Linked DNA regions of Homo sapiens. The protein of the gene in region 1 interacts with the protein of each later gene in a biochemical or structural test. Each region holds a gene or a part of one and is shown on either strand. Other genes may lie near its edges.

The links.
Region 2: the proteins of HECW1 (region 1) and UBE2J2 form a complex in vitro, tested with the Homo sapiens proteins (one study listed by BioGRID).

What each region holds. Positions count from the first base shown.
Region 1 is NC_000007.14:43,104,765-43,120,048, reverse strand, and holds the start of HECW1 (E3 ubiquitin-protein ligase HECW1), read right to left. Parts: upstream 7,403-15,284; 5' UTR 7,142-7,402; coding exon of another isoform or gene 7,112-7,141; intron 6,046-7,111; exon of another isoform or gene 5,893-6,045; 5' UTR 5,781-5,892; coding exon of another isoform or gene 5,658-5,780; intron 2,154-5,657; exon of another isoform or gene 1,474-2,153; intron 1,103-1,473; exon of another isoform or gene 854-1,102; intron 1-853. UniProt on the Homo sapiens protein: E3 ubiquitin-protein ligase that mediates ubiquitination and subsequent degradation of DVL1. Also targets the mutant SOD1 protein involved in familial amyotrophic lateral sclerosis (FALS).
Region 2 is NC_000001.11:1,262,778-1,277,862, forward strand, and holds the start of UBE2J2 (ubiquitin-conjugating enzyme E2 J2), read right to left. Parts: upstream 11,078-15,085; 5' UTR 10,889-11,077; exon of another isoform or gene 10,076-10,888; intron 5,216-10,075; coding exon 5,085-5,215; exon of another isoform or gene 4,993-5,084; coding exon of another isoform or gene 4,956-4,992; intron 3,514-4,955; coding exon of another isoform or gene 3,321-3,513; intron 2,814-3,320; exon of another isoform or gene 2,054-2,813; coding exon of another isoform or gene 2,006-2,053; intron 610-2,005; coding exon 569-609; intron 1-568. UniProt on the Homo sapiens protein: Catalyzes the covalent attachment of ubiquitin to other proteins. Seems to function in the selective degradation of misfolded membrane proteins from the endoplasmic reticulum (ERAD).

The DNA.
Region 1 (15,284 bases):
TCCCAGCACCTAAACCAATGCCTGGCACACAGCAGATGTCTAGGCAGTATTTGTTGAATGAATGAATGAATGAGAAGACTTCCACTTTTAAAGGCTCGTTTGGGCTGCTGTATAGGGAACAGACTGCAGATGGGCAAGGACTACAGAAAACCAGTTAGGAAAGCTTACTAGCGCTTAGACGGGGATGGCTGTGCTGGATGGAGAGGGAGAGAGAAGGGACAGAGATTTATTGAAAGCTGGATCTGGGTGAGAAAAAAGTCAGAGGGACTCACAGGTATTTGACCTGAACAACTGAAAGGACAGAGTTGTCCCTGAGAGAGATGGAGGACACCAGAAGAGAAGCACGTTTAGGGAGCAAAAATCGGGGGTTGTATTTTGCACATGTTAATTTTAAGCTAACGTGCCATTCAAAGGGAGATGCTGGGCGGTTGCATTTTCAAGTCTGGAGTTCTGGGAATGAGTCAGGGCTGACGAAATAAACTTGGAATCATGAGCATGAAGACAGTGTTGAGAGAAGGAATTTAAGTAAGAAGGGAAGAAGTCTGAGAGCCAAGGCCTGGGGAATCCCCGTACCCGCATTTAAAGGTCAAAATTCAGTTGAGATCAATCGGGATAAAAACTCAGGGGCCATCCAAAGAGCCTGAGAGAGAAGAGCCAGAGAGGCTGCGGGAACACCAGGAGAATCTGGTGTCCTGGAAGAAGCCAGGTGCTTAAGAAAAGAGTGGTCCCCCACAGCCCCATGGGAAATGCTGCTCAGATCAGCAAAGCTGTGCCCTTGTACTTCACCAGGTAGAGATCATTGGTGACCCTAATGACAACAGGGAGGGGAGTGACAGGAACGAGTGACTGATACCTGATCGAGGTGCTCTCAAGACAGGCAAAAGGTGAGAGGTGGCAGAAACACAAAAGTAGCTTCAAATAAGATGGTGATCTTCTGGTCTCAGGCTGCATGGTGGGTGTGTGTCATATTTTGCTTCATATATTTCATATATGTTCAATGTGCTGTTTGTCAAAATCAAATATGTCACAATAAAATATGTCTTTAGAGGCTGAGATGGAGGGAGTGAAGAAGGCCAGTGGGACAACCTTTTTGAAGCATATTCTTTAAAAAGAAACAGAAAATCCATCATGGGGGATGTGGAGTCAGGGAGCGGTTTTATAAATGTCATACATCACAGTACCATTTGTATGCCAATTATTTCCTTATCATCATCCTCTTTATATGCAGGTCCTATGCCCGGTCATGTAGAGGGGACACCAAGGACAATGCTGGGGGTAGGCAGGGGGAAATAAAGCTGGCAACAATCCTCAAAACGATTTTTTTTTCCAATTTCAAAAAGCTCATTTCTACAAAAATAATTTATATTCAAAATAGAGGGAAAACGTCATTAAGTAGTTTTAAGTTTTGATGGCACAAGGAATTATGAATAACGGTAAAGAAAAAAAGAAGTCCTTTTGAGGATAAAAACTTACTGACTGCGTCCTGTGGTTTCTTCAGCTCATCTGTGTGTTACAGGAAAGAGGATGAGGAATCACTTGCTGATTGATTTCATCAGCTCTGGTACTGACGGCACTGATGGCAAGGTCTTATATGTTTAATTTTATTCTCCCCATCTTTTCCCCCCTTAACCTAGATCTCTGAATTTTAACAATGTGTAGGGCTGAGATTTATGTTTCTCCAACTGCTCTGACTTGAACCCCCAAAGCAAAAGCAAAAGCAGGGAACATCCATGCACGTTAAATGGATGTCAATTTCAGGACAAAATGATTGAATTACAATCCCTGGCCATGGATGTGAATTTTGATCTTTTTTTTTTCTTTCACACACATGATATTTCCCTGACATCTGTGCAATACAAATATATCTAGAAAGTGTGAAATGGAAAATCTGCTTCACTAAATATATAAAAGGGACCCCGAATGAAGTCTCCATGATGGCATTTGTCATCATGGGCACAGATGGCGTCCTTTCCCAACTCTTCCCCCGCCCCCCTGGTACCGGCTTAAGTTCCATCCACCAAATTCTCCCTGCATATCACATGCATAGATGCCTGATAACACCAGGAGAGCCTGTCTGTATGCCACATCCTTATTTTTCAGGCCTCCATATGCATCAAGCTTCAGACCAATAAATCAGGAAAAGTATCAGTTCTGAACAAATAATGCAAACAGTGTATACCACTTGTTGCTATGGGAATCCAGATGACCTAGGAGCTTAGTGATCTTTGTCATATGTTGCCAGTAAGTAATTGCATTATTATCATTCTCCTTTCAGTGCCCATGTCACAGAACAGTACAACTACTTACCAATACCCACACATCCAAACACTGTGGGATGGGATACATAAAATTGCTAATATGCTGCTTTGCTTCCTAAAATATTTAAAGAGGCTTTAAGACACCTAAATGCATGGCATTGAGGTTCCAAATGGTGGTCAGAAAGTCTGTGAGAAAAAGACGTAAACGATAAACAATATCGTTAAAAGATTCGACCTGCTTCTATATCTCATTGTGTCTTAACTTGGAAAAGCAATGGTAATGAATAAACCTCAGAAAGTAGAAAAGATTGAGCTGAGTAAGGAGGTTGTGAAGCTCTGACTCCTGCCTTTGGTGGGGCGGGTGGGGGGTGGCAGTGTACTACTGGCATATGGCTTATGTATGTGGGGGATGTTATAGGAAGTTGAGTGGAGCTAAAGAAGTGGAAAAAAAGAGCAAAATGAGGAACCAGAGAGAAACTGAAAGGGGAATTTGTTGGATGAATTGCAGGGAACACTTTGACCATAAGAGTTATTCAGCTGTGAAACATACTCAGTGGTGAGAATAAAAATGCTTGGAACCTTGGCTATTAAACCCCCAAATTCTAAACACTTTGTACATTTTGGAGATTGCATACTTTTTCCACCACTGCATTCCTCACTGGGAACAAGAAATGCCACAAATCTTTCCCCTTAATATAGTAAATTTAGTTTTACAAATAAGAAAGGATTATAGAAATGTATAAAGAATAGTTTTAACAGAAGGCTCAAAGTAGTTATCAGATAACCACAGGCTGCACCATGTAGCCTTAATTATTTCTTCTCTACATATTGCCAAATTAAATTATTTCTAATCTTTTTCTCCTTTCAACTTGCTCAACTGAATAAACCAACAAAAATAATCACAGAATGGTGATGTTAGAAGTGACCTTTGGGATTACTTGATTCAACTTTCTACTCTTAAAGAAGAAGAAACTAACCCTCAAAGAGGAAAAGTGACCTGAAGAAAACCCCACAGAGCATTTCATACTGTTTTCTCTAAAAGTCCGTGAACATCAAATGTGCCAACGGCTGTTTTACAGAGAGGACATGTGGGTATTGCAACTTCCTGGTTTCCTAATGTAGCTTGTCCTGTTTTTTAGGATGGAAAAGGAAGCAGGTAAATGGGAGAGAAGCAGGTGTCTTGATGTCTGTAAGTCACACCTGTTAGTCTAGAAACCTGCCATTGGGAGACTCAGTCAAGCTTGGCTGGCCCAGGAAGGATGGTTGTCTCTGGTCTAACTGTAGGTCATTTCAGAAGCACTTACAGTGGTTCAATGTTGCTTGAGCAAATAATGAGTAGACATTCCCTAGACGTGTCCATCATCCTAGCAAGCTCTGGTTGATAGAACCAGGACTTAGAGAGAAAGTGGGCAGAAGGGTGCTCACGTCTTCTGTTTAAGTGTGGATTAGAGGTTAAAGTGCTTGGGCCATGTTTCCTTCTAAGGCCAGAGCAAGACAGAACAGAGCAGTTATCAGATAAATTTTGTCAAAATGGATAATCCAGATCATTCAAGGAAAAAAATAAATAACCAAAACCTACAGCATTTGAACTCATTCTCTACGTGTTTTTTTGTTTACTGAGGGTGGGTGGTGGAAGGCCTGGATTTGAGTCCTGGCTCTCGGTTCCCCCTTAAGCATCTTACATAACCTCTCTGATTCCCCCAGCTGACTCACAAAGTGAAGGATTCCTACCTACCTCCTGCCTATACAATTAGAGGGCATTTTTATGACCTGAAATCCACTCAATAAACATTTCTGAGAACACATGATGTACCAGGCAAACTGCTAGGTGCTGGAGAGATGAATATAAACATGTCCTTGTTCTGAAGAAGCTCATCCCATATTTAAGATAAGGAGACTGTGGCACATTTACAACTCAGATAACTGCAATATTGTAAGTGCTATCTTAGCTCTATGAACAAAAAGGCTATGGGAAAACAGGAGAAGAAGTGGTTAATTATGCCTTGCAGGGACTGTAATTTCAGGATATTATTTTGATTGTAACTTAAAACAAATGAGTGCACAACTACGGAAAATTGTGTGGCTAAGCATGAATCAACAAATACCTTGACTATACCTAAATTATAAAAATTACCATAGCGCATGAAAACACTGCCTGCCTGCCTATTTAGACCAATCATTGCTTCACCCATTTTTGTGACAAGCAACAGCGCTAGCAAGTTTTGAGAGCAACACCAAATTACATCAGAGAAAGTAAGTCTCATGCCATTGTCAATTACTGCATAGGATGAAACAGCTATCTAGAGTGTCTCATTAGAAACAAACAAAAACCAATGATTGGAAAAAGTGAATTCTCAATTATCTAAGATGGGGTTGGAATGAATAACTCCACAAAAGGAGAACACCTGTTATCCAATTAATTCAATCTTCTTCTCTTTTCCCCAACCCTCCACCAAATGTTTTGCTATAGTGGACAAAAAAAAAAAAAAAAGACCTGTTTGAGTTGGTGAGTAATTTCACTTATGGGGAAAATGCAGACGCTTGGGTTTTAAAAGCTGCAAGGTATAAAAATAAGCCGCAGATTCTACAGTCAATCCTTGGTTTGCTTGCATGGTTCACGTTATAATTATTTGCCTTTCCAACACTGGGTAACTTTTCTTACTCCTCTGTCAGTTACCACAGAATGCTGGAACTAGAAAGAACGATAGAAACCAGCCAGTCCAACTTCCTTTACCATGAGGAATGAGACTCAGGCTTGTCTTTCCATATCACATCTGGCCTTTTAATATTTCTTTTGTTAACAATCATATCAGATGGAAGCATAATAGAAGGTAAAGCTCAAAGTGATCTTGTAATACATCCATCTTTAAAAGCCAGAGTGTAAAAGGAATCAAGTCAAATGATGCTATATACACAAATAACAGAGCTGCAGTCCCTCTGTATTGATACATTGATGGGCTGTTCCAGCTCCGGATGTGACCTCCCTATCAAGTCAATAATGTCACAATCTAAACAAACTTAGGCAATTTGCCTTCATGAAAAAACTACTCCAAAAAAAAAGAGAACTGTCATTCCACAAAGCAGCCAACTGCACTAGACTGGGATTATAGTGTGGAATTAGTCAGAACGTGGATTATTAAATAAAACACTAGAACGGCCAATTTGCCTGGAGGTCTAGGAATTAAAATAGTGCTTTGTTTTTCCAATGCCACATTCCAGAGGAAGCAGCAAGCGGAGGGAACAGGCAACAGGGAATTCTACCAACAGGGAATTCTACCACAATCTATCTCTCTACCAAACAGGCACACACATTCATACCAGGGTGGGCATGTGGACTCTAATCCCTTCTTAGTGGAAAACACACATTTTTAAATGAATCCCCAATCTAGAATGAATTACCGTAATAGCCACAGCCGGAGTGAGTCTGCTGATGAGAAACGCAGATCTGGCCACCTGCTTTGAGACGCCTTGGACCACAACACTGCCGGGGTCTTTAACGGTTGGCCTTTTCGGGTAGGGCATCTGCCCTCCTAAATCGCGTTTAAATCCCAGGAAAAGAGAGAAGATGCCTCCCTCAATTTTTGAACTATGCTGCTCTTGCTGTATCCGTTTCTGCTGAACATAGCATTGATATCTTTTCAAAGAGAAGGGGGGAAAACAAGGGGAGAATTGCACCACTGCAGATTCCAAGAGAAGTAAGCACAAAACTACAGCAACGTCAAATAATATCTTCTTCGGCAACTAGGAAAATCCCCACATGCTCTCTGGTGTCAGCCCAATGCAGACTGAGGCGCGCTGTGCCCGGAACCACAGGAAGCCGGGCATCTCTGCAGCCTGTGTCCCTGCCAGCTCCCCCTACGCGCTGAAATTCGGCAGGGAAGAAGTTATGGTGCCCAGCCTCTGTGTGCAAGACAGAGACACCGCGCATCATGGCTCTGAAAATCAGCCAAGTGGCCGGGACGTCAAAGCGGCAGAGCAATCAGAATGCCCTGGAGCCGGGGATGGAGGGGCCACATTGTTTGAGCCCTCGGATTTTGCTGCATTGTCACCGCCCGGGAACGTGGGGGTAGCAGGAAGCGCACCTCCAGCCAAAAATGGACCGGACGCATTCCCCCCCCCTCCCCGCCCCGGCAGCTCCCTCCCTGCCTGTCTGCAAGTCGCAATACGGTAGGCGACATGACTGCTCCCGCTAAAACTCAGGTGGCAGGCCCGGCTGAGCGGCGCAGCCGGCCGGTAACAGGGAGGCGCTGGGGGAGCACCCACACAGCGCCTCCTCCCCTCCTGCACCCGTCCATGGGAGCAAGGGCCGGACCTGGCCACGCGCCCCTCGAGCGAGCACCGGCGAGCCCGTGCGGAGGCTCTGGGCGCTCTCTGGGCTAACCACGGGCATTGCATGGGACACAATTGTTCAAAAGCGAGCCCAAGGCGAAGCGCAAATCCAGAGCTTTGGTTCACAAGGGGTGGGTGTGGGCTGGGAAGGGGGATTACGTAGGTCTCTCCGCCCCCTCCCCTGACACCTCCTCGCCACTGGGAGGGCGCTGAGGGGCGGGGGAGGCGCTGCGAACCCGCTTGGGGGCTTCTTTGTTTCTCTCCGTACCCCGCAGGAGGGCCGGGTGCGCCTGCAGTACCCAAGCCGGGGTCGCCACCCGGGGATGCCGGCCCGGACCGGGCGGCGGCGCGACCCAGGCTGACAATTGAACCTCGCGGGAGAAGCGAGAGGGTGGGGAGGAGGGTGGATCTCGGCCCCGAGAAGGGAGGGCGCTGCCGGGGCCTCGCGTGCGGCGGGGAAGCCGCCCAGAGAAGGGCGGGGGGGAAGGGGCGGCAGACAGTGTCCCCGCGCTACGCCCGCTTACCTTGGCAGCCCTGGCCTGGGCACAGATCATGCTCCTGTCAGCGCGCAGATTAGAGCTGGGGGGCGCACGTGCCCCGCATAGTGCACCGGGCGCCTGGGACTGGCTGGGGAGGGGACCCTGGCGACCGCCCGCTCTCGCTGCGCTCTGGCTGCCGGGTGCCCCGAGAGAGCGGAGGCCACGGCCACTGTCACGGCGGAGGGGCGCGCGCGGCTCGGCGAGTGTGTGCGCGAGGAGGGGGCCGGTTCGGTCAGAGTCGCACGGTGTTCCGGCTCCAACAACAGCGCCTGATGCGCGGTAACGCAGCACACTTCATCGCTTTATCCTCCCGCTTGCATCCCCTCCCTCCCTGCCTGCTCCTCTGTGGGTACCAGACTCCAGAACCAACCACAAGCCGGGCTTGCTCTCATTAGCGCTGCCCCGCCCTGCAGCCTCCGCGCACCCCCACCCCCGCCCCCGCGGTAAATATATATCGATTCTTGTTACCGCCGGCCCCATCCTTCCAACACCCAGCACGCGTACTGGGCATATCCAACACCAACCCTGGCTCCTCGGCCCTTTTGTGTGTGTGCAAACAGTGTAGCAGAAAGGATGCGGTACAGACACTCTAGGCGGGTACCCTGTGACAGGTGTTCTTGGCCTCTGTCTTAGACACTTTCCTCGCTTACCTTACACACAGTTAAGAACGCTCAGAGACACATTTCAGGAACCGTCCTGTATTTGCACAAGCACACAAAACATCGTAATGACAAATGCAAAGGATGAAAATCACCCCAGAATATCTATTGTTGGGCAAACCTAGCTCCCAAACCGCGTTTTCTATTACACTGCACACAGTGTCAGAATGCTAGAACGAGAAGGAGGCAAAGTCTAGACCCTTCCAGGTACAGCCAACTGAGATGCAAAGAGAAGTGAAATGCTGGTTACTATTGGTGGTTGGCTGCTCCATGTATGCACATTTTTGTGCATCTGGTCGACATTTGGTTTGTGTGTGTTCACATAAAATGCAGAGGCTTTGAGCACATAATCTCTATAGCCTGGGATTTTATGATCCAACCACATTCTCTACAATGCTGATTTATTCCTTCCCATTATTTTGCCCAGCATCCTCTACATGAGCTTTTTTTCACTTTCTGAGAAGTTATCTTCTTTCCCAGACCCCAAACTCCGCCTCCTCTAGAATAAACAAAGGCTTCACCCTGACTTCAGAACTCCTTACTGAAGACCTGAGTACGGACTTGTCAAAACCAAATCTCCTTCCCCTTCCACCCACAGTGGCTAGTTTCTCAGTGCCTCTCATTCCACTGACCTGCCTCTTGGCATTGATTTCACTCTTACAACTGGAACTTTCCAGAACTGGAAACTTTGGACGATGTGAAGGCAGCTTCACCAGCTGTGCTCTTTTCTGCAAGGAGGCACAGCCCTTCTCTTTCCGTATTCCACTTGGGGTGCCCAGTCCTTTCCTGACAGACCCTTTTCTTTGCCTGACAGCAGTCAGATCTTCTGGTCAGATGAGCTCAAAGCAGACCATTTTCAAACCTTAGCTAAGAATCCACACAGAAAGCTGTGCACACATTTCTCCGGATTTTACACTTGGATTAGTACCAACTCCTATATGAAGAAAACTCTCCGAGAATAGACTTGAACAGGCTGTGGCAGTAAACAGCAACAGCAACCAACCATGTGATGTTTCCAACCAGAGACTTGAAAGAAAACAAAAACTTTCACATAAACCAGCATCCATGGTTTCTAAATTAGCACAATGTCACCAAACCACAATAAAGGATAATTTTTTTACCTCAACTAATTGCCAGGATGTTCACCTCATTATTTTCAGTGAATCAGCATCAACTTGGCTCAGAGATGTTTGCTCTCTGTTCTATCCATCATGGAGATGACTTGACAAGTCCACATCTCTCATAGAGGTTATTGATGTAGCAATCCTTGTGGTGTGCTTTATCCTCCCCTGAGGAGTTGCTTTTTTTATACTGAAGACAAAAGATATTAAAATAGCAGTACACAAAGTTTCACATCCTGAGTAGATAAAGAAGCCTTGTAGAGCAGCTTCTACATGTCAGGTGCAATGGCAGCATATACAGACTCCTGTGTATTGTCCCCTTTTATTTTTATTATTTTTATTTTTTGTGAGGGGTCTCACTCCAATGCCCAGGGTGGAGTATAGTGGTGCAATCTCCATTCACTGCAACCTCCGCCTCCCAGGCTCAAGCAACTCTCCCCCCTCAGCCTCCCGAGTACCTGGGAGTACAGGTGTGTGCCACCATGCCTGGCTAATTTGTTTTTTGTATTTTTAGTGGAGATGGGGTTTTGCCAAGTTGCCCAGGCTGGTCTTGAACTCCTGAGCTCAAGCAATCCTCCTGCCTCAGCCCCCCAAAGTGCTAGGATTACAGACGTGAACCACCATGCCTGGCCTGTTTTGTTTGTTATTCCTAACAGTCCCCCTGTAGTCTGGGTAGCATGATCCTATTTTACAGAAGAAAGCAAAAAGGCTATGTTAGTTCTGTAATTTCCTTAAGTCTTGTTTCAAGCAGAAGACCTTGAATCTGGAGTTTACAGATGTCAGCTGCCCTAACCTTAAAGAGAAGAGTATTTGGTGGAGAAAGGAAAAGACATGGCATGAATCTTAAAGCCATCCTAGTAGTCATATTTATTAAGTTTCTAATGTACTCAAAATACTGTTATAAATAATAAGTCACAGTCCCAGTGCGTCCCTCCTAATACTAACCTTATATAATGGCGTAAAGTGAATGTTGAAGGTTTTGAGATGCATATACAAACACCTGTATTATCATAATGCCCATGCAACCGAATCTTCCACCTTTTGTAACTCGAGGCCCAGGAGGACCCAGGGAGGGGGTGACATGCCTGCTCACCTGCTCATCTCAGGCCACATGCAGATAAAGATTAGCAAACAGAGCACCATTCACAAATGGTCCCTACAATGCTGAGAAAACGATAACTTGAACCAATCCGGGGCTTTATCTTTGGGGATAGGCCTTCAACATAATGTCGGAAGTGAACGCACTATAACTAGGGGAGGAAAAAGACCGAGCTGTTGAAGCTATCTCACATAGTCTCTGCACAGGAGCAAATTGTAGCCAATAATACAAGATTGTCATTTGGACTTTCCTAATGACTAATGATGGTGAGCATCTACTTTTGTGCTTCTCTTCCATCCGTCTATCATTTGTAGTAAAGTGCTCAAAATTTTTGCTCATTTTTAAGTGGGTTGTTTGCTTTTATATTGTTCATTTTTGAGAGTTCTTTCTGTATTCTAGATACAATGTCTTTGTCAGATAAGTTTTCTGAATATTTCCTCCCCATGTGTGGCTTGTCTTTTCATTCTCTTAGTAGTTTCTGTCACAGAGTAAATGTCTTTAAAGTTGATGGAGTTCAATGTATCAACTTTTTCTTTCAGAGATCATGCTTTTGGTATATCTAAGAACTCTTTTGACTAACCAAGGTTACAAAGAGTTGTGTTTTGCTGATAAGTTTCAAGATTTTACATTTTACACTTAAGTATTTGGTTCATTTTGAATTCTTATTATTTTTTAGGTGTGAGCTATGGATGGTGACTTTTTTATTTGTTGGCTTGTTTTTGCACATGGGATGTCCAATTCTTCTAGCACCACTTATTGAAAAGATCCTTTCTTGATTGAATCGCTTTCGCAACTTTTCAATAATCGCTTGGTTAGATTTGTAGGGGTCTCTTTCTATATTCTCTGTTTTGTGCCTCTGATCTGTCTTTCTATTGTTTTACAAATAGTACACTATTTTGTAGATGTATACTGCCTTAAAATCAGGTAGTGTGAACCCTCCAATTCTGTCCTTTTTAAACATTATTTTGGCTATTTTCATTTCTTTGCCTTTTTATATGAATTTAGAAATGGTTGTCAATATCTACAAAAAAATTCCCACTGGGATTTTGATTGCAGTTGTGTTAAATTTATAGATGAATATCAGAAGAACTGACATTTTAACAATCTTCCAATTTCTGAATACCTTTCAACCCACAAACTTAGCATTTCTCTGCATTTGTTTAGGTTTCCTTTGATTTATTTCATCAGTAGTTGAAGTTTTCAGTATGCAAATTCTACACAGATTCTAAGAGTTTCCATGTAGATTCTAAGAGTTTCATTTTTTTGGTACTATTGTAAAAGGTATTGATTTTAATTTTGAATTTCACTTTGTATTAAAGTGTACCTGGGATTTGTTTTAATTAAGTATGCACATGCAGACATACAGACATGGAAATGCTTCTCATGAAGGGAGAAGTTTATACTCACAGAACCCTAGAAACAGGAGGCATGGCATACCGCGCAGGGCCACAGGGGGAGCTCCTGGGTCAATCAGGAGGCAGAAGCCTGGGAGAGCATGGCTCAGAGCCTCTATTTTGTATGCTGTGGTACGGAATGGCCAGGCAGGGCAGGCCAGTTTGAGCAAGTCTAGGATTTGATAGTTCCAATAATTTCAGTGGCTGTGGGCTACAGAGGTAGTCTCTAGTTGTCCTGTACTTGTCCCTGGGGAGACTTAGGGCAAGGGAAATTGGTTTGCTATGTGAGTTGGACAAAGGAGGTGGTTGTGGGCATGGACTCTGGATTGGTTGGTTTACATATGAATGGTGGGCTCTCAGACAAGTTGTTTGCCATCTCTAGGAATTAGCTAGCCCTGGGAGGGGCAGTTTCTTCCAAGCCTGCAAAGTCCCTAAGATGTCAAGGCACCACAAAATATGGAAAATAAAAAAACATAAAAACTCATTCACTGGTAGAATAGAAAAAAAATAATTAGTGTGTGTGTGTGTGTGTGTGTGTATTTTTTACGTATCCTGTGACCTTGCTGAACTCATTTATTCATTCTAGTAGCTTTTGTATAGATTTCTTGGAATTTTCAATGTAGATAATTATGTTGTCTGTGAATAGAGGATGTTTTATTCTTGCTTTCCAATCTGTATGCCTGTTGTTTCTTTTTTCTACCTTCTTTCACCAGCTATGCTTTCTATTTATTGCACGTATTTTTTATTTTATTAATTAAAAAATTTATTAATGAGCTTTTACTTTATGATAGGCAGTGTAAATATCAATCACACTAAACTTGTGGTCAAGTTAAACATGTAAGTACAATATGATACAGGTGCTGAGAGAGGGACATGTTATCAGTGTGAGAGGAGCAACCACTCTAATATGGCTAGGGAGGCTAGAAACGCCTCTATTAATAGAGCTTTGAATGAAGAACAGAAGTTTGTTGGGTGACCAAAAGACATCCGAAGAAGAAAGAAAAGCATACATGAAAAAGCAGAAGACAGAAAGAACAGAATGTACTTGGGAATGTACTTGGTGAAGAGTTCAATTTGACTGGAGCAAAGAGAGTGGTGTCAGAGAGAAGACTGGAAGCAAAGGTTTGAGACATACGTGATAGGCCAAACATGCCCTGCTCCAGCTGTTAGAATTCATTTGGCAAGTAATGGAGAACCCTAAAGATTTTTAAAGCCAGGAACGGAAACAACGAGATTTGTCATTTAAATATATAGCAAAAGCCATGTGTGGTGGCATGTACCTGTAGTTCTAGCTACTTGAGAGGCTGAGGTAGAAGGATCACTTGAGCCCAGGAGTTCAAGTCCAGCCTGGGCAACATCATGAGACCTTGTCTCTATTTTTTTTTAATTAAACATAAATAAATGAAAAACATATTGTGAAGCAAAATATACAGTGTATAAATTTTACAAATTATTATTTGTAATACTTTTAGATTATTAATATATGTTGATCAAAAATTAAAATTAAAAATTCAAAAAAGAGAGAGATGTTGATAACAAGTGTCAGATGAGGATGGCAGCTGGCTAATTTGCCCTCACCCACCTTTCCATCAAAATACTTATTAAAAAGCACGAGACTAAGAAAAGTGACACACAAGTATGAACTATGAATGCTTATCAACAATTTATCATATGCCAGAAAGTTTCTCACTAACCTAATCAAAGTGTGTTTAGGCATTAAAACACAGCCAGACCAAAAAAAAGAAAGAAATTAGAAACAAATGCCTTTAGAAAGGTGAAGCCTTCATTTAGGAACAGCAATAGAGGGTGATAATAAGAGTACAGACACAAGGCAAATCACCTGGGTTTGAAACTTCGATCAATTATTTACTTCTTTGTACTCTTCTGCAATTTATTTAAATTCAATTTCCTCATCTATAAAACTACTTATGAATATTTTTACCTTAAAAATTGTTGGCTGGGCGCAGTGGCTCACACCTGTAATCCCAGCACTTTGGGAGGCTGAGGCGGGCAGATCACGAGGTCAGGAGATCAAGACCATCCTGGCTAACACGGTGAAACCCCGTCTCTACTAAAAAATACAAAAAATTAGCTGGGCATGGTGGCAGGCGCCTGTAGTCCCAGCTACTGGGGAGGCTGAGGCAGGAGAATAGCGTGAACCCAGGAGGCAGAACTTGCAGTGAGCTGAGATCGTGCCACTGCACTCCGGCCTGGGCGACAGAACAAGACTCCATCTCAAAAAAAAAAAAAAAATTGTTGAGAGTCAAGTGAGATAACAAATGTAAAGTTTATAACGTTGTGATTAATACGTGGTAGCCTTCAGTATTCCTTAGCTCATTCCATCAGTAATGTTCTTTTCAAGTCCATTTGGAGATTTCAACAGGCTGTAATGTATATGACTAAGTTTAAAAGTGTTTTGAGGAAAGTGAGATATTGCAAATTTTTTTAAGTTTTACTCAAAAAATTTTTAAACCAAATTACACAAAAGTAAAGTGGGCAAAAGTTACTAAAAAACTTTGATGGATGATTTAAAATTTGCAATGAATGCATGAAAAATTCTTAAATAGCCCTATGACCCAATTAAGTGCAAATTAAATTGAGATACCTTTTTCCTCATTTTAGGACTTGTATTTCTCCTGGTAGGAAAGTAAATCATTCCAACATATCTGAAGTGTAATTTGCATTTATGTCAAGGATCTTTACACAGCTCCTGTGATTAAATGTAATGCATCAGTTAGTTATTGCTGCCTAACAAACCATCCCAAAACTTAGTTAACAACCATGTACTATTTCTCCTGAGTCTATAAATCCACTATAAATTGCTGATCTAGTCCAGACTAAGCTGATCTCAGCTGGGCTCCTTTGTGTGGGCAGTTGGCAGGTTTCCTAGGAGCTGGCTCATCTAGGACAACTTCATCTGGGACAACTTGGCTCTGTTCCATATGGTCACTCATCCTGTAATAGGCTATTCCAGTCTTGTTTTCATAGCAGTAGCTGGAGCGAGCGAGCGAGAGAGAAATATGCAAGGCTTCTGAGGTCTGGTCTCAGAACTAGCACACTGTCAGTTCTACCATATTCTGCTGGCCAAAGCCCATCATGAGGCCAGCCCAGATTCAAGTGATAGGGAAAGACACTCCACTCACTGATGGAAGGAACTGCAAGGCCACAGGGTAAAGAGTATGAATACAGAGTGGATGGAGAATAGAAGCCAAAAAACAACAGTATTGTCAGAAATAAAAGAGATAAGAAAACCACACTGGCCAAAATCTGAGCAGGAGTCTAACAATTGCACCCTTAAAATGAAGGACTGAGATTGTATTCTTGGACTGTATATCACATAATCTGACCTCTGGAATCTAGCAGGGATCATACAACATCAAATGAGGTAGGATAAAACTTTGAGCCCTCCTCCCACCACATTTTCTTTGACCAACTTTGAGGCATTCACCTAAACACACCAGGGGTCATCCTTCCACTGTTTGACATTTATCTTCTGAGCTGGCTAAAAATGGTCTTGCAATTGTCCCTCTATTTTTTTTTTCTATTCATCCGCTTAGATCTATATCTCACAGAATAGACATGACAGAGAACATAAGGGCCAGGAAGAGCTACACTGCTCTCTAGAATGCTTAGTCACCCATGATGAAAGCTTTATGAGCTAAAGTGGATCCAGGATGAGCTATGGAAGGAGTGAACACTGGAGCAGGAGTATAGACTTAAATGAAGTATGCTCTTCAAAAACATTGCAAACTGGGTGTCCAGTTTAAATAACCTAGCCTACCAAAGGATGTATACACCCAACCACAATCCTGTAGACCCCTGTTGCCTGCAAGGCACTGAAAGTTACAGTTAAACTGAAGTCAGCAGTGAGGAGGCTAAGAATGT
Region 2 (15,085 bases), on another chromosome or scaffold:
AAATGACACTAGGTCTCTAGGTGGTGTCTGCTGACCTGGAGGGGTCAGGCTGCTGGATCAGCCTTGGTAGTCGATGAAGGGCTGAGGTGCTGGACAGGTCCTGCAGCCTACCGAAGCCCCAGGTGCCACCACACAGGGGTACTTCCACTTAGCTCAGAGACCGTCCTGGGGATTGCGAAACCCTGGGGGCGCCCAGCACAGAAGGCACACTGAATAACTGAATATATGTGCCTTTCCTTTGATGATATGCACTGGGTCTTAAGAAATAGTAGAACAGGCCAGCTTCAGTGTTTACCCCGGTCTGGTTTTCTCAGCTATGGCCCTATGGTGTCAGAGGCTGGTGAACACAGACGCTACAGGCGGCCCTGCAGGCTGAGACACATCAGCAGAGCAAACACTTCCAGCGTGTGGAGAAGCAGACGAGGAGGAGTTCCAACTAAGCCAATTTAACTAGCACACATCCAAAGTAGAAAGGCTGCTGTTTGCAAATAAAAGATGTTGAACAGGCAAGGCTGACTGAGAATATAAAAACCGCCTGGTGTTCTTCTCCTAAGCACAGAATCCTTACCTTCATAAGGGGTCATCTCTGGGCCTCGGACGACATAGTGCCTAAGGGAGAGAAGAAAATTACTTGGGATTTGAGGACAGCAAATTCTCCAAAATCTGAATCATTCCAAGCCTGGGGTTTATAGAACCCAGCCAAAATTACATTCACATTCAGGCAGTGAACAAATGAAGGTGAAATGTCACACAGCCACACGGCTTCAAAACCCCCGTCTCTTCTACCGTGGGTGCTTTTAGTCTCTTGTAACAGGATCTTAGAGACTATACTTTATAAGTTTACCATAAAGTACCTTTGTTTCGACAATATAACATGCACGAAGCTCATCTTAATAATAACTGAAATCTTAAATAAATTTTAATTTCACAGTACATTACTAAGATGTACTTGAAGACTGTAATCCCAGCACTTTGGGAGGGCACGGTGGAAGATCGCTTGAGCCCAGGAGCTTGACACCAGCCTAGGCAACATAGCAAGACCCCACCTTTATTTAAAAAAAAAAAGTTAGCCGGGTGTGGTAGTGCATGCCTGCAGCCCGCCTACTCAGGAGGCTGAGGCGGGAGGATCACTTGAGCCCAGGAGTTTAAGGCTGCAGTGAGCTATGATTGTGCCACCACATCCCATTTGGGCAACAGAGTGAGACCCTATCTCCAAAGAAAAAACGATGTACTTTGAAATGTATATTCTTAAATGTACTTATATATAATGTGTTTTTTGATATCACACATGCAGGCTAAACAGAACACAGCTAGTGATGCGGGGCCGGCTCGGTACCCCCAGCCCTTTCTCGTGCTCCTGGAAAAACCATAAGTGACTTGAGCAGCTGTCCTGGAGCAGAAGGAACAGGAACTGCCGTGATTGTGTCCAAAGCCACAGTCCCCACACAGAGCTCACCCTCAGACCAGGGGCAGCAGCAAATCGACTAAACACTCCTCCACACAAATAAATAAGGCTTCTGCTTTACGTAAAGAAGTGTCTGGGCTTTACAGATTCCCAAACGAAACAGAAGAGCACAGAGAAGAAAGTAAAACCAGCTAGAAATGCCAGAAACCAGACATGGCTTCAACTGCCAACACCGGCCAACACCGGCCATCATCTTTCCCCTTGCTCTGCCCCAGGACATGTGTGCCATCACTTTAAAACTAATGGGGGCTGGGCTCGGTGGCTCATGCCCGTGATCCCAGCACTCTGGGAGGCCAAGGTGGGTAGATCACCTGAAGTCAGGAATTCGAGACCAGCCTGGTCAACATGGCGAAACTCCGTCTCTACTAAAAATACAAAAATTAGGCCAGGTGCGGTGGCTCACACCTGTAATCCCAGCACTTTGGGAGGCTGAGGCAGGTGGATTGCCTGAGGTCAGGAGTTCAACACCAGCCTGGGCAACACGGTGAAACCCTGTCTCTATTAAAAATACAAAAATTAGCCAGCCATGGTGGCACACACCTGTAATCCCAGCTACTCAGGAGGCTGAGCCAGGAGAATCGCTTGAACCTGGAAGACGGAGGTTGCAGTGAGCCGAGGTCACACCGCTGCACTCCAGCCTGAGTGACAGAAATAGTACTCAAAAGAAACTACTAATGGGATGACGTATAGTAATGTATACTAATGGGATGATGTATCAGCAGAGCCAGCTGGTATGTTTTACTCAAAAAATGCCATTATCATGTGTCATTGACCCAGGAACCCAGTGGCTCTGAGCTCAGCACGCGATGCACCCAGGAATGTGGCCTTACGTTGTTACTGTGCCCAACCTGCGAAAACTGGGAAGAAATGAAGAAGTCATCCTCTTCCTGAGACAGAGCCCAGCAGCCTTGGGGCGGCTGAGAGAAGATGGGATCCACGTGGCCCATAGCGCACCCCACAGGCCTTTTCTGGGAAAGCAGTCTTCTCTCGGGGAAGGGAGAGACACCTGCCGAGGACCTGCCAGGGGCTCTCGCACTGACGCTGCTGTCCTTAATGCCTCAACAGTACAGGCAACATGGGCTACGCTGAGCCCCTGCTCTCCTGGAAGTCTGGTATTTTGGTATTTTGGCAGGTGCCAGGCAGAGGGTGCCTAGGACCAGCCCCATAAAGTCCCTGGGCCTTCCCCTAATGTTTTAGTTTCCAATGAGTTTCTCTGCTCAACATTCCACACATGCCGTCCAAACCCAAGCCTGCTGCTGGGAATGGAGCACAGAGACTTTGCCCCACATGCCTCTTCCGCTGGCTGACTGCAGTTTTCTCTCGTGTGTGTGTGTGTGTGTGTGTGTGTGTTTTCTCTCCATTGTGTGTGTGTGTGTGTGTGTGTGTGTGTGTGTGTGTGTGTGTGTGGTGGAGTCTCACTCTGTCGCCAGGCTGGAGTACAGTGGTGCGATCTCAGCTCACTGCAACCTCCGCTTCCCGGGTTCAAGCGATTCTCCTGCCTCACCCTCCCAAGTAGCAAGTAGCTGAGATTACAGGCGTGCGCCACCATACCGGGCTAATTTCTGTATTTTCAGTAGAGACAGGGTTCCACCATGTTGGCCAGGCTGGTCTCAATCTCCTGACCTTGTGATCCACCCACCTCGGCCTCCCAAAGTGCTGGGATTACAGGCATGAGCCACTGTGCCTGGACTTCTCTCCGTAATTTTAATGGTGAGTATTCTTTGTGAATCATCGAACCTGCACCGGGACTTGGGGACGCCTGACCCACAGATTTGTGGGGAGGGATTTCCCCACACAATGAAGACGTCCTCGCAACCAGCGAGGAGGCGGCTACCGTGGAACTTGTCCCTCTCACCTGCCAGCGATGTCCTGGGGCCACATGTGATTTTCAACACTGGGGGCAGAGAGCACTCTGGTGGCCAAGGGGCTCCGCCTCACCCTGGGTATCCTCCGCCTGCCTGGGCTGGGCCTCCTCTGTGAGCCAGAGAAGGTGGACCCCTGACCAAGCCGAAACACATTTCCTTTCAACTCACTGAAATATCTTTTCTCTGGAATTAAAAAAAATTAGGCCAGGCATGGTGGCTCAAGCCTGTAATCCCAGCACTTTGGGAGGCTGAGGCAGGCAGATCACCTGAGATAAGGAGTTCGAGACCAGCCTGACCAATATGGTGAAACCCCATCTCTAAGGCAGGAGAATTGCTTGAACCAGGGAGGCGGAGGTCACAGTGAGCCGAGATCACGCCATTGCACTCCAGCCTGGGCGACAGAGCAAGACTCTGTCTCAAAAAAATAAATAAGGCCGGGCGTGGTGGCTCACGCCTGTAATCCCAGCATTCTGGGAGGCCAAGGCGGGCGGATCACGAGGTCAGGAGATCAAGACCATCCTGGCTAACACGGTGAAACCCCGTCTCTACTAAAAATACAAAAACAAAAAATTAGCCGGGCATGGTGGCAGGCGCCTGTAGTCCCAGCTACTTGGGAAACTGAGGCCAGAGAATGGCATGAACCCGGCAGGCAGAGCTTGCAGTGAGCCGAGATTGTGCCACTGCACTCCAGTCTGGGTGACAGTGCAAGACTGTCTCAAAAAATAATAATAAGTAATTTTTTTTTAAAAGATCAAAATATAAAACATCCTTACATTTTATTTTATTTTATTTTATTTTGAGACAGAGTTTCGCTCTTGTTGCCCAGGTTGGAGTGCAGTGGTGTGATCTCAGCTCACTGCAAGCTCCGCCTCCCGGGTTCAAGCGATTCTCCTGCCTCGGCTTCCCGAGTAGCTGGGACTACAGGTGTGCGCCATCATGCCCAGCTAATATTTGTATTTTTAGTAGAGACAGGGTTTCACCATGTTGACCAGGCTGGTCTCGAACTCCTGACCTCAGGTGATCCGCCCGCCTGAGCCTCCCAAAGTGCTGGGATTACAGGTGTGAGCCACCATGCCCGGCCTCTCACACTTTATTTCTTACCAAATTACTAGCAGACCTGTAATGGCAGTGTTTCGACAGAGCAGTATGCACTCTCACACTCTATACTTCAGCAAGGGGGAGAGTCACCATGAGGTGAATGCTTATGAGGCACAGGTCCTCTCGTTGTCAGCCTGAGGGTCGGGGCACCTGGCCCAAGCCAGTGCCAGGGACAGGAGTGTCGGACCCTAGTCCTGTCAAATACTCCAAGCCAAAACAGGCTAATTCCCATATCCAGAAGCAAAGAGCAGAGTCTAGAAAGGCAGTTTCTCCTCTAAGTGCCTAGAGTGCACACCAGCAACAGCTGTGAACCCTGCATACCTGGACCCCTCCCCTAAGGACCCCACACCAGAGACTCTCTCCAGCCCCAACCTGAGTCAACCTGGACCCCGCCCCCCTCAAGGGCCCCACACCGGAGATTCTCTCCAGCCCCAGCCTGAGTCAAGCATGGCTCTGTGATGTCCCCGGCATGCGTCCATTGGGAAAAGACCAGAGAGTGTCCACAGGCCCCTGGGCACCCCACTCACCCCGGGGGAGGGTGCAGGAGCACCTTGCCAATGCCATGACTGGGGCACCAGGCTCGCCCAGCAGGGGCCGGCAGAGGCCTGCGTGGCAGCGACAGTCAGCGCAGGGCGATCAGTGGCGCGGAGCCTTACCACTCGAGAATATTCGAAGGGAGGGGCTCGGCACAGATGTAAGGCACCGGGTCTTTCTTAATGCGAAGGTAGTCCTGCTTCAGCCTCTGGGTTGCCGTGGTCGGAGCCCTCTTACTGCTGGTGCTGCTCATCTGTTAAAAGCAACGTCTACACTGACGACGAGAAGCAGCGCCGGCCACAGCTCTCTCCCCTGGCGCAGCCCCACTCCCGCCTCTGCAGCCCGCCATTCATTCAGGGCCCGGTCACCCAGAGTCACAGCTCACAGGTCACCCTCGCTTGCCACCCGCCCAGACACCCAGAGGCCCTGCGGCTTCTCTCTTCCCGTCTGTCCCGCCACCACCTTCATTGACACGACGTACAGCTCAGGTACAAAGACGAGGAGAAACCCAAAGCCTCGTTCCTGTCCTCCAAAAACTCACGCAGGGATACATTTACAGGGCTTGAGGGGGTATTCGGGCCACAGCCTCAGACCAGCTCCTGAGGGCAGCTACTCGCACCTTCCAACTCAGCTCAAGGACCCCGCACTGATGGAGAATCCACACCATAGAAGTGGGCAGGCACCACCGCCGGCCCCTTCACCGCACCCGGAAGCCCGCTGCCCAGCATTTACCACTAGCCACAAGCAAAACGAGCCGCAGAACGGGGGAGCCTCTGCGGCTGGAGGGACGAGGACTCTGGAGACTCCAAGGCACTCACTGGGCAGAGCAGCTGTCTTCCTGGTAGAAGGGGCCACAGGTGAACAGGCCACACCTGAGAAAGTGCAGTGTGCAAGGGCCCAAGCACAGTGAGGGCAGGGATAAGACTGGCCAGGGAGGCAGGGCCAGGGCATAAGAGTTTATTTACTTATTTTTCGTGAGACAGGGTCTTGCTCTGTCGCCCAGGCTGGAGTCACTGTGGCCTTGACCACCTCGGCTCAAGCAATCCTCCCACCTCAGCCTCCTGAGTAGCTGAGACTACAGACGCATGCCACCACGCCTAGCTAATTTTTTTTTTTTTGTAGAGCTGGGATCTCACTATGTTGCCCAAGGTGGTCTCAAACTCCTGGCCTCAACTGATTCTCAGGCCTCAGCCTCCGGAAGTGCTGGAATCACAGGCAGGAGCCACGGTAACCCGGGCCCCACAGGGGTTTGGGGTCCAAGCCTCAAGGCAGATCATATCTTCTGTTAGGAAAGTCACTCTGGTGGCTCCATTGGGACGTTCAAGACAGCACTGAAGGCCGAGCATGGGGCGCGAGGCACCATGCAAGAGAGGAGGCTGGATCAGGGACCCCAAGGCCCCTCAGCCACACCCGAGACTGGGGAGAGGGGTGGTGATCATCATGCAAGAGAGGAGGCTGGATCAGGGACCCCAAGGCCCCTCAGCCACACCCGAGACTGGGGAGAGGGGTGGTGATCATCATGCAAGAGAGGAGGCTGGATCAGGGACCCCAAAGCCCCTCAGCCACACCCGAGACTGGGGAGAGGGGTGGTGATCATCATGCAAGAGAGGAGGCTGGATCAGGGACCCCAAGGCCCCTCAGCCACACCTGAGACTGGGGAGAGGGGTGGTGATGAAAACAGGGCTCCCTGCTGCATCAGACTAGCTCCAACTCAAACCTTATTTTTTTTTTTTTTTTGAGATAGAATCTCACTGTTCGTTGCCCAGGTTGGAGTGCAGTGGTGTGATCTCCGCTCACTGCAACCTCTGCCTCCTGGGTTCAAGTGATTCTCCTGCCTCAGCCACTCAAGTAGCTGGGATTACAGGTGCCTGCCACCATGCCAAGCAAATTTTTTTTGTATTTTTAGTAGAGACGGGGTTTCACCATGTTGGTCAGGCTGGTCTCGAACTCCTGACCTCAGGTAATCTGCCCACCTCGGCCTCCCAAAGTGCTGGGATTACAGGCGTGAGTCCCCGCGCCCAGCCATGGCCACACGATTTAATAACGTCTGTGGACATCAGTGGCCATCGATAACGGACAGTGACCAGTGATCTCCATCCTGACCTCCCAGTTCCCACAAACCGGAAGTCTACTCTACCCAGTTTCCTTGCTGATATGCTTTGGCTATGTCCCCACCCAAATCTTATATTGACTTGTAATCCCCATAATCCCCCATGTTGAGGGAGGGACCTTGTGGGAGGTGACTGGATCATGGGAGCAGTTTCCCCAAGCCGTTCCAGTGAAAGCGAGTTCTCAGGAGATCTGATGGTTTATAAGGCAGTGTTCCCTGCTCTTGCCCGCTCTCTCTAGCCTGCTGCCATGTGAGACATGCCTCTTCCCCTTCCGCCATGATTGTAAGTTTCCTGAGGCCTCCCTGGCCACACGGAACTGTGAGTCCATTAAACCCCTTTTCTTTATAAATTACTGAGTCTCGGGTACATCTTTATAGCAGCATGAGAACCAACTCATACACCTGTAGACAGCCACACATTCCACCTCCTTTCAGTCTCCACCTGCAAGAGATCTACAGACTTGGCCTCTCTAACCGGTTTATTCCTCCTCAGAGAACCACCACCAGCAGCCTGTTTAGTGTCTGCTCCCAACCTGAGGATGTCAATGGCCAGGGCTTGGCTGCTCACCCCACACACCCAGGGCCTGGAGTGCAGAGCTCAGCCAGGGCACCCAACGCGTGCTCCCAAATGTGTGGCCTCAGCACCACCCCCAACCCTGCTTCTTGTTCTGGGGTCCCTGACTCTTGCAATCCTTGTTCACCACAGCCTTCCCACTCTCATTATCTTCTCTAACGCAAAATGTCATCACTTCTCCCATCAACACCACAGGAGCCTCCCAACTCCCCCCGTGGGTCCAGAAGGTCTGAGCTTCTAGTCTCTTCCCATTTCAAGGCCCTCCTGTACCCATAAGTCAACATACTGTTCCGATCACCCACTCCCCCATCCACCCTTCAGGATACTCCACAGCCAAGCAAATAAACATCAACACGTCCTCTTGCCTGCCAGCCCCTTGACAGAGGCAGCCCCAGCCAGCCCTCCTCATTCCCAGCTCCCAAGACAGAGCAGCCCCAGCCAGCCCTCCTCGTTCCCAACTCCCAAGACCCAGCACGGCCCAGGTCCCACTCCAAAGTCCTGACCGACACACTCCTTCTCACAGCTGCTTCCCAGCCTAGCCTGTACTGGAAACTCCCCAGGCCCTTCCCGGCATAGCCAGAGCCACCGCCTTCAGAGGCCTCCCTGATTTCCCTGCCAAATGCCTCCCACTCTGTCACACATCACTGGCCTCCATGTGACCCCACACACAACGCAGGGCCCTTCTGGGCCCCAGCGGGTTCCTCTGCCTAAGGAGTGCCTCCCCAGGAGGGCCCCCACCAGGGATGGGGTTACAGTCCTGCCTGGGAAGGAAGTGCTTCCACACAGTGGCATCCCCAGCTCCTGGCTAAAGAAGCCAATGGGCCAGGGATCTCCCCTCAGGCCAACACCTGGTGATGGCCACAGTGATGACCCCAAGCAGCACCGCCACACAGGCTGTCCTTTCGACACTCACCCTGAAGCTAACACTCTGCCATATACAAAATAATTCACTGGACAATTCAAGTGCAGGTGGGTCTGGGCTTAGCTAAGTGGCCAGGCCGCAGGTTTAACGAAAGTTCATGGACAGCCGCGCAAAAATAAAATAGATTCCATCCAATGAGTCACAAACAAGCTTCTCTCCCATACCTGCTTGGAGAGGCTTTTAAAATCATGTTCACGATTCAACTGCTGTTTCCCCAGCCACTCTTCCTGAGCTTCACACAGAACAGCATTCTCACGTCCCCCAGGAGGCCAGGGGGCTATTTCCCCCAATTCTTCTCATCCCAATATGACAGCAGGAAGGACAAGGAAAACAAAAATTCACAAAGGGGCTGGGCGTGGTGGCTCACACCTGTAATCCCAACACTTTGGGAGGCCCAGGCAGGCAGATTACCTGAGATCGGGGGTTCGAGACCAGCCTGACCAACATGGTAAAACCCCGTCTCTACTAAAAATACAAAATTAATCAGGCATGGTGGCATGTGCCTGTAATCCCAGCTACTCGGGTGACTGAGGCAGGAGAATCACTTGAATCCAGGAGGTGGAGGCTGTGGTGGGCCAAGATCAAGCCATTGCACTCCAGCCTGGGCAACAAGAGCGAAACTCCGTCTCAAAAAAAAAAAAAAAAAAAAAAAAAAAAAATTAGCCGGGTGTGGTGGTGGGCACCTGCAATCCCAGCTACTCTGGAGGCTGAGGTGGGAGAATTACTTGAACTCGGGAGCCGGAGGCTGTAGTGAACTGAGATCATGTCACTGCACTCTAGCTGGGCCAACAGAGACCCTGTATCAAAAAAAAAAAATTCCACAAAGGAAGCAAACTGTGAGAACAGAGTTTGAAGCATATGTGCCTCGGGTTCCCTTCAAACATCCCCACAGACAAAGGACACCAAGCATATCATCCTGCTGAGAGAAAGAGTTGGCGATTTTAAAACAAAAAGGCACAGGAAAAAAAAATGTTCACACACAGAAACTGCATTAAAGCAGCGTGAATCACCGAGGGCAGCTGTGCCCAGGTGCTGAGGCAGTGGCTGCCCAGCGTCCCTCACCCGTCCCTCTTTGTCTGGACAGCTCTTTCCTGCTTAGGGGATGTGGCAGGAAACCTTGGCCTGACCCATCGGCCAGGCGCATGGCACACCCAGGTCCAGGACTGCCAGGGAAGTCTCTGCCTTCTCCACCAGACTGCTCCGGAGGCTGGACGGAAGCCCGGGCCGATGGAAATGGGACACTCACCTGCGACTCACACATGCACCTGCCTGGGTCACCTGCCTGTCACTCATCCACGCACCTACCTGCCTGGCTCACCTGCCTGTCACTCAAGCACTCACCTACCTGCCTGGCTCACCTGCCTGTCACTCACGCACATCCCTGCCGAGAGTGGAACTGCTAAGGAGGTCAGCGGTGCCAGGCCGTGCAGATGACGGACTGCAAGTTCCGGGCACCCAGACCCAACCACGCCCTAGGCTCAGGTGCTAGACTAAGCGAGATACTCACGATCCTTTCTTCGGAAGCCAGATTACACAGTCTGGTTCCCCTGGAGCAGGGCGCGGGGCCACCGACCTGCCCCAGCCAAGCCCGCTGTACACTCTTCGCTGCCCACCTCCCACCGGGCTGAGGCCCGACCTTTCAGCCGCTTCCTATCTGGGTCTGGCAAGAGGATGGCAACCGGACTAGAGTTAAATACACACGCACTAAGTGGCAGGCACTGAAAAGGACGCCAGGAGGTGACACCTGGCCAGGGGCTGAAAGGATGCAGGGAACTGGCAGGTGTGGATGGCGAGGCCCGGCGCCGCTTAGAGACTTGTTCCGGGCTCGTGTCTCACTCGCCGGCCGGCGGTGGTCTCCCACTGTCACCGCCCGGGTTTCCCAGAAACGCTGGCCCTAAGCACAGTCCCGGGCACGCTCGTTTCTCTCGGGGTTTACGGGGCAGTCTGGAGTCTAACAGTTCAGGGGCGAGGCGACGGCGGGCTCGACGGCAGCCCTCCCCCGACACAGACTCCCGTGATCCACTGACGAACCAGGATCGAGGCTGCCCGTCCTGGGGCAGCTGCAAGTGTCCCAGCTGACGGGAAACCCGGCCGAGTGGTCAAGTCCCCGACATGACCCTGACCCGGAGCTCCGGGAGCCCGCCGTAACCGACCTCGGGTTCCGCGCAGGCAGGCTCGGGCCGGGGCCCCGCGGGCGGCGGGCGCGAACGGAGAAGCGTCGCGCAGGGTCCCCAGCAGCCCCGGGCCGCCGCTGTGGCCGGCTCCGGCAGGGGGGACGAGCGGGCCCGAGGACCCGGCGCAGGCCTGCGAGCGCGCTCACCTCTCCCTGTCGCTGCGCGTGGGCCGCCGCCGCGCTCAGGCTCGCCGTAGTCGAGGCCGGAGCAGGGTGCGGAAAAGCGGGGCCCGCGCCCGAAACAGCCGCACCGCCCCGGGATTGGGCCCACCGAACCCGCCGCAGCGCCGCCGCCGCCGCCTCAGCCTCCAAGATGGCCGCTCGCGGGGCGGAACCAGCCTAGCTTCTGCTTCCGGTGCGCGGTCCGGGGCGGTGAGGAGGGAGGGGGAGGGCTGGCCGCTCTAGGCAGACTGGCGGACCGCGCCCACGACTCTCTGTCGCCGTCGACCCCGGGGTGGGGGATGGGGCGGGGGGCGGGGCGGCGCTTGCGCACTGGCGGGCGGCTCCGGGCACCGTTAGTGGGCGCGAGAGCCCCAGACCCCGAAGCCGCGCGCTTCCCTCCCCATGTGCCACGGCCCAGGGCGGCAGGCCCGGCTGAGGGCGACCCCGGTGGAGAAAGAACCCCGACCCTCCCGCCTCCCGGCTCCCGCCTTGTCCTCCGCTCCCACGCCCCACCCGGCCCTTAGGGGAGGCGCGGCGCGGCCCGGGCATGGAGCGTCCCGGGCCCCTGGAGGCTCAGTGGAGGGTTGGGCTCCAGGGAGCTCAGAGCTCTCTCGTTCAGGGACCCGAGAGTGACACGCGTGGCATCTCTTTGCAACCCACGTCCGCGCCGCAGCACCCTCCCCTGCAGGTGCCTGCCCAGCCCCGGGATGCCCCTGACCTCCCCTTGGACAGACTGCAGAAAGCGCGGGGCGCTGCGTCCTCTCCACCTCTCTCTGACCCCAGACACATTGGGAGAGAGCGGTAGGTGGCGGGGCGCTGGGGTGGGACGCTGGGGGCAGGCGCGCAGCCCACCGCCTCCCTGAGAGGCCGCTGAGGACAGCGGGGAGCTGAGGGTGGTCCCCTGGTGGGGGATCAGGAGGTGGACCTCGCCACCTGGCTGCCTGTGGCCCTCTCCTTTGCCCCAACCCTGACTGCCTCTCAGGAACAACCACAGGTCAGCAAGGTGGCTGAATATTGAGGGTCAGTCCCGCTGTGGCTACGGGCAGAGGGCAGGCTGTGTCCATGCTCAGCCCTGACTCTGGCCCTCTGGGACACCTTGGTGGGTCTGAGACGTTGCTGCAGGCCGTGGGGCAGAAGCCAGGAGGAGTGTCCACGCAGCCTCAGCCCGTGGGAATCCAGCCTGCCTCCATTACTGCCGTCACCGGCTCCACCTTCGGAGAACATCTCAGCATCCAGCCTCCTTCCTCTGCCTCCTCTCAGGCCTCTGCCGTTCCCATGCAGGGCAGGCCAAACTGTTTTCACAGCATGGAAAGTTATGTGAGGGAAGCCACACCGGCCGCAGATACAGGCACCAGCACATCCACTCGCATGCACACTCACGGCTGTGGCCCGCGGCAGATGGAGGCCCGCTCTGCCTTGTCTGTCCCTCAGTAGTGTGCGATGACAGCACACCTGTGGGGGCCCTGCAGCTGGGAAGACTGCAGCGAGGCTCAACTCAGAGGCCCCTGCTCAGGAGCATGGCTGAGTCACACCCCAGGGAGAAGGTGCCCCGGACAGGTGTGGCCAGCACGTCTTGCCAAGACCCCACCACCCCACCCACCCGCATCTGTGGCCTTCTGGTAAGCAGGACACAGGCTGCCCAGGCCTCTAGCCATAGAGCCGATGGCCTTGGCCAGTGGGATCGGCACAAGCAGCTAGGTTGGTGGCAGATGGTGGCTGTAACCTTCTCAACCCTGAGATTGCCCTCTGAGGGCAGGAGCAGCCCTTCTGCTGTGGGCCAGCCCTCCGGAGGGACTTCCTCTGGCAGCTTCAGGAATAGGACAACAGGGACCACCCTCAGCATCTTGAGCAGCGGGGGGCACCCTCTGCTTTGGCAACCAAGAAAACATCCCCCAACCCAGTTACCACCTCCTGCCCCCACCTCCTCCAGCCCCCAGGGTTGGACCAGAAAGCCTTGGCTGCCTCTGAACAGCAGGGATTGTCTGGCCAGGGGATGCTTGAGGGACAGAGAACCCAGCCTGGAGGGTGCAAACTGAGGAAGGTCTCAGTCCCTTTAGAAAGTTTGTTTTGCCAAGGTTAAGGACACACCCATGACATCTCGGGAGGTGCCCAAGGTGCATGTGGCACAGCTCGCTTTTATACATTTTAGGGAGACATGATTTATTTACACGGGTTCAATCTGAAAGAGCAGGATAAATTGGGGTGGTGTGGGGAGACCTCTATGTTATAGGCAGATTCAAAATGATCCTGACCGACAGTGGTTGAAAGAGTTATTATCAATAGAAAGGAATGTCTGGGTTGCAGTAAGGGGTTGTGGTTTTCCACGCAGCTGAAGCCTCGGGTTGCCGGCTTCAGAGAGAATAGATTGTTAATGTTTCCTATCAGACTTAAGGCCTGTGTTGATGTTAATGCTAGTCAGCTTTTCCTGAATTTCAAAAGGGAGGAGGCATGACCCACGACCCCTTCCCGCCATGGCCTGAACAAGTTCCCAGGTTAACACTGGAACGCCCTTGGCTGAGAGGAAGGGTCCATTTGGACGGCTGGGGGGGCCTTAGAATTTAATTTTTGGTTTACATTCACCCCCTTCTGGCCAAGATTTGCCAGAGGCAACATCCATGTCCACCAAATCTTTATTGTGTCTCAGCGTTGCTGGGCGAGTGTGGCTGCCCACCCTCAGTCAATCCTGTCCCTCAGTTTGACTCCCTATGACCCAGGGACTTACAGTTAAAAGATTTACAGCCCATTAAATTTTGTAGGCCAGATAGGAATGGACATGGACCAGCATTCATTACCTCTTAAAACAATTTTTTTTTTTAAAGTTGGAGTCTCACTCTGTCGCCCAGGCTGGAGTACAGTGGCATGATCTCGGCTCACTGCAACCTCCGCCTCCCAGGTTCCATTGAGTCTCCTGCCCCAGCCTCCTGAGCAGCTGGAACTACAGGCATGCACCACCATGCCTGGCTAATTTTTATATTTTTGTAGAGACAGGGTTTCACCATGTTGGCCAGGCTGGTCTTGAACTCCTGACCTCAAGTGATCCGCCCTCCTTGGCCTCCCAAAGTGTTGGGATTGCAGGCATGAGCCACCACACCCGATCTATCATGTAACATTTTTATAAATTCCTTTTTTACCAAAGGTATTGCAGCTTACACAGACCGTTCACGACATGTGGACTTTCTAGTTTGTGCTGAACATCCCTTTTTTTAAACAACCAGTCATTTATTTAAGGACAAAAATTTACCATACAAGATTCTTTCTCATATAAAATTATTTTTTTTAACCTTACTTAACAAAAAGACCTCTTTATATCTATAACTTTCCTTGGTCTCTCTTATTTCCTTGTTCTTTTTAACTCATTTTATACATAAACTTTAAATAAGCTTTGAATTAGACAAAATTATTTACCTTATAATAAGAATTTTTGTAGAAAGAACGTTTTCCTATAATTTTTTTTTTTTTAGATGGAGTCTCACTCTGTCGCCCAGGCTGGAGTGCGATGGTGCAATCTCGGCTCACTGCAACCTCCCCCTCCCAGGTCCAAGTGATTCTCCGGCCTCAGCTTCCCAAGTAGCTGGGATTACAGGCATGTGCTACCACACCTGGCTAATTTTTGTATTTTTCAGTAGAGACGGGGTTTTGCCATGTTGGCCAGGCTGGTCTCCAATTCCTGATCTCAGGTGATCTACCTGCCTCGGCCTCCCAAAGTTCTGGGATTACAGGTGTGAGTCCCCATGCCTGGCCTTCAGCTGGGTTTAGAGTTTTACAATGCTTATGCCAAGTTTTGACCCCTTATAAATCAATAAATGCAAACAAAAATGTATGCTGACAGTTTTTAAGACACTCCTTATATTACTTTACCAATACTTTTGGCCGGGCACGGTGGCTCACGCCTGTAATCCCAGCACTTTGGGAGGCCGAGGCAGGTACATCACGAGGTCAGGAGATGGAGACCGTCCTGGCTAACATGGTGAAACCCCGTCTCTACTAAAATATACAAAAAATTAGCCGGGCGTGGTAGCGGGCGCCTGTAGTCCCAGCTACTCGGGAGGCTGAGGCAGGAGAATGGCCTGAACCCAGAAGGCAGAGCTTGCAGTGAGCCCAGATCGCACCACCGCACTCCAGCCTGGGGGACAGAGCGAGACTCCGTCTCAAAAAAAAAAAAATTTTTTACTTAAGTCACAT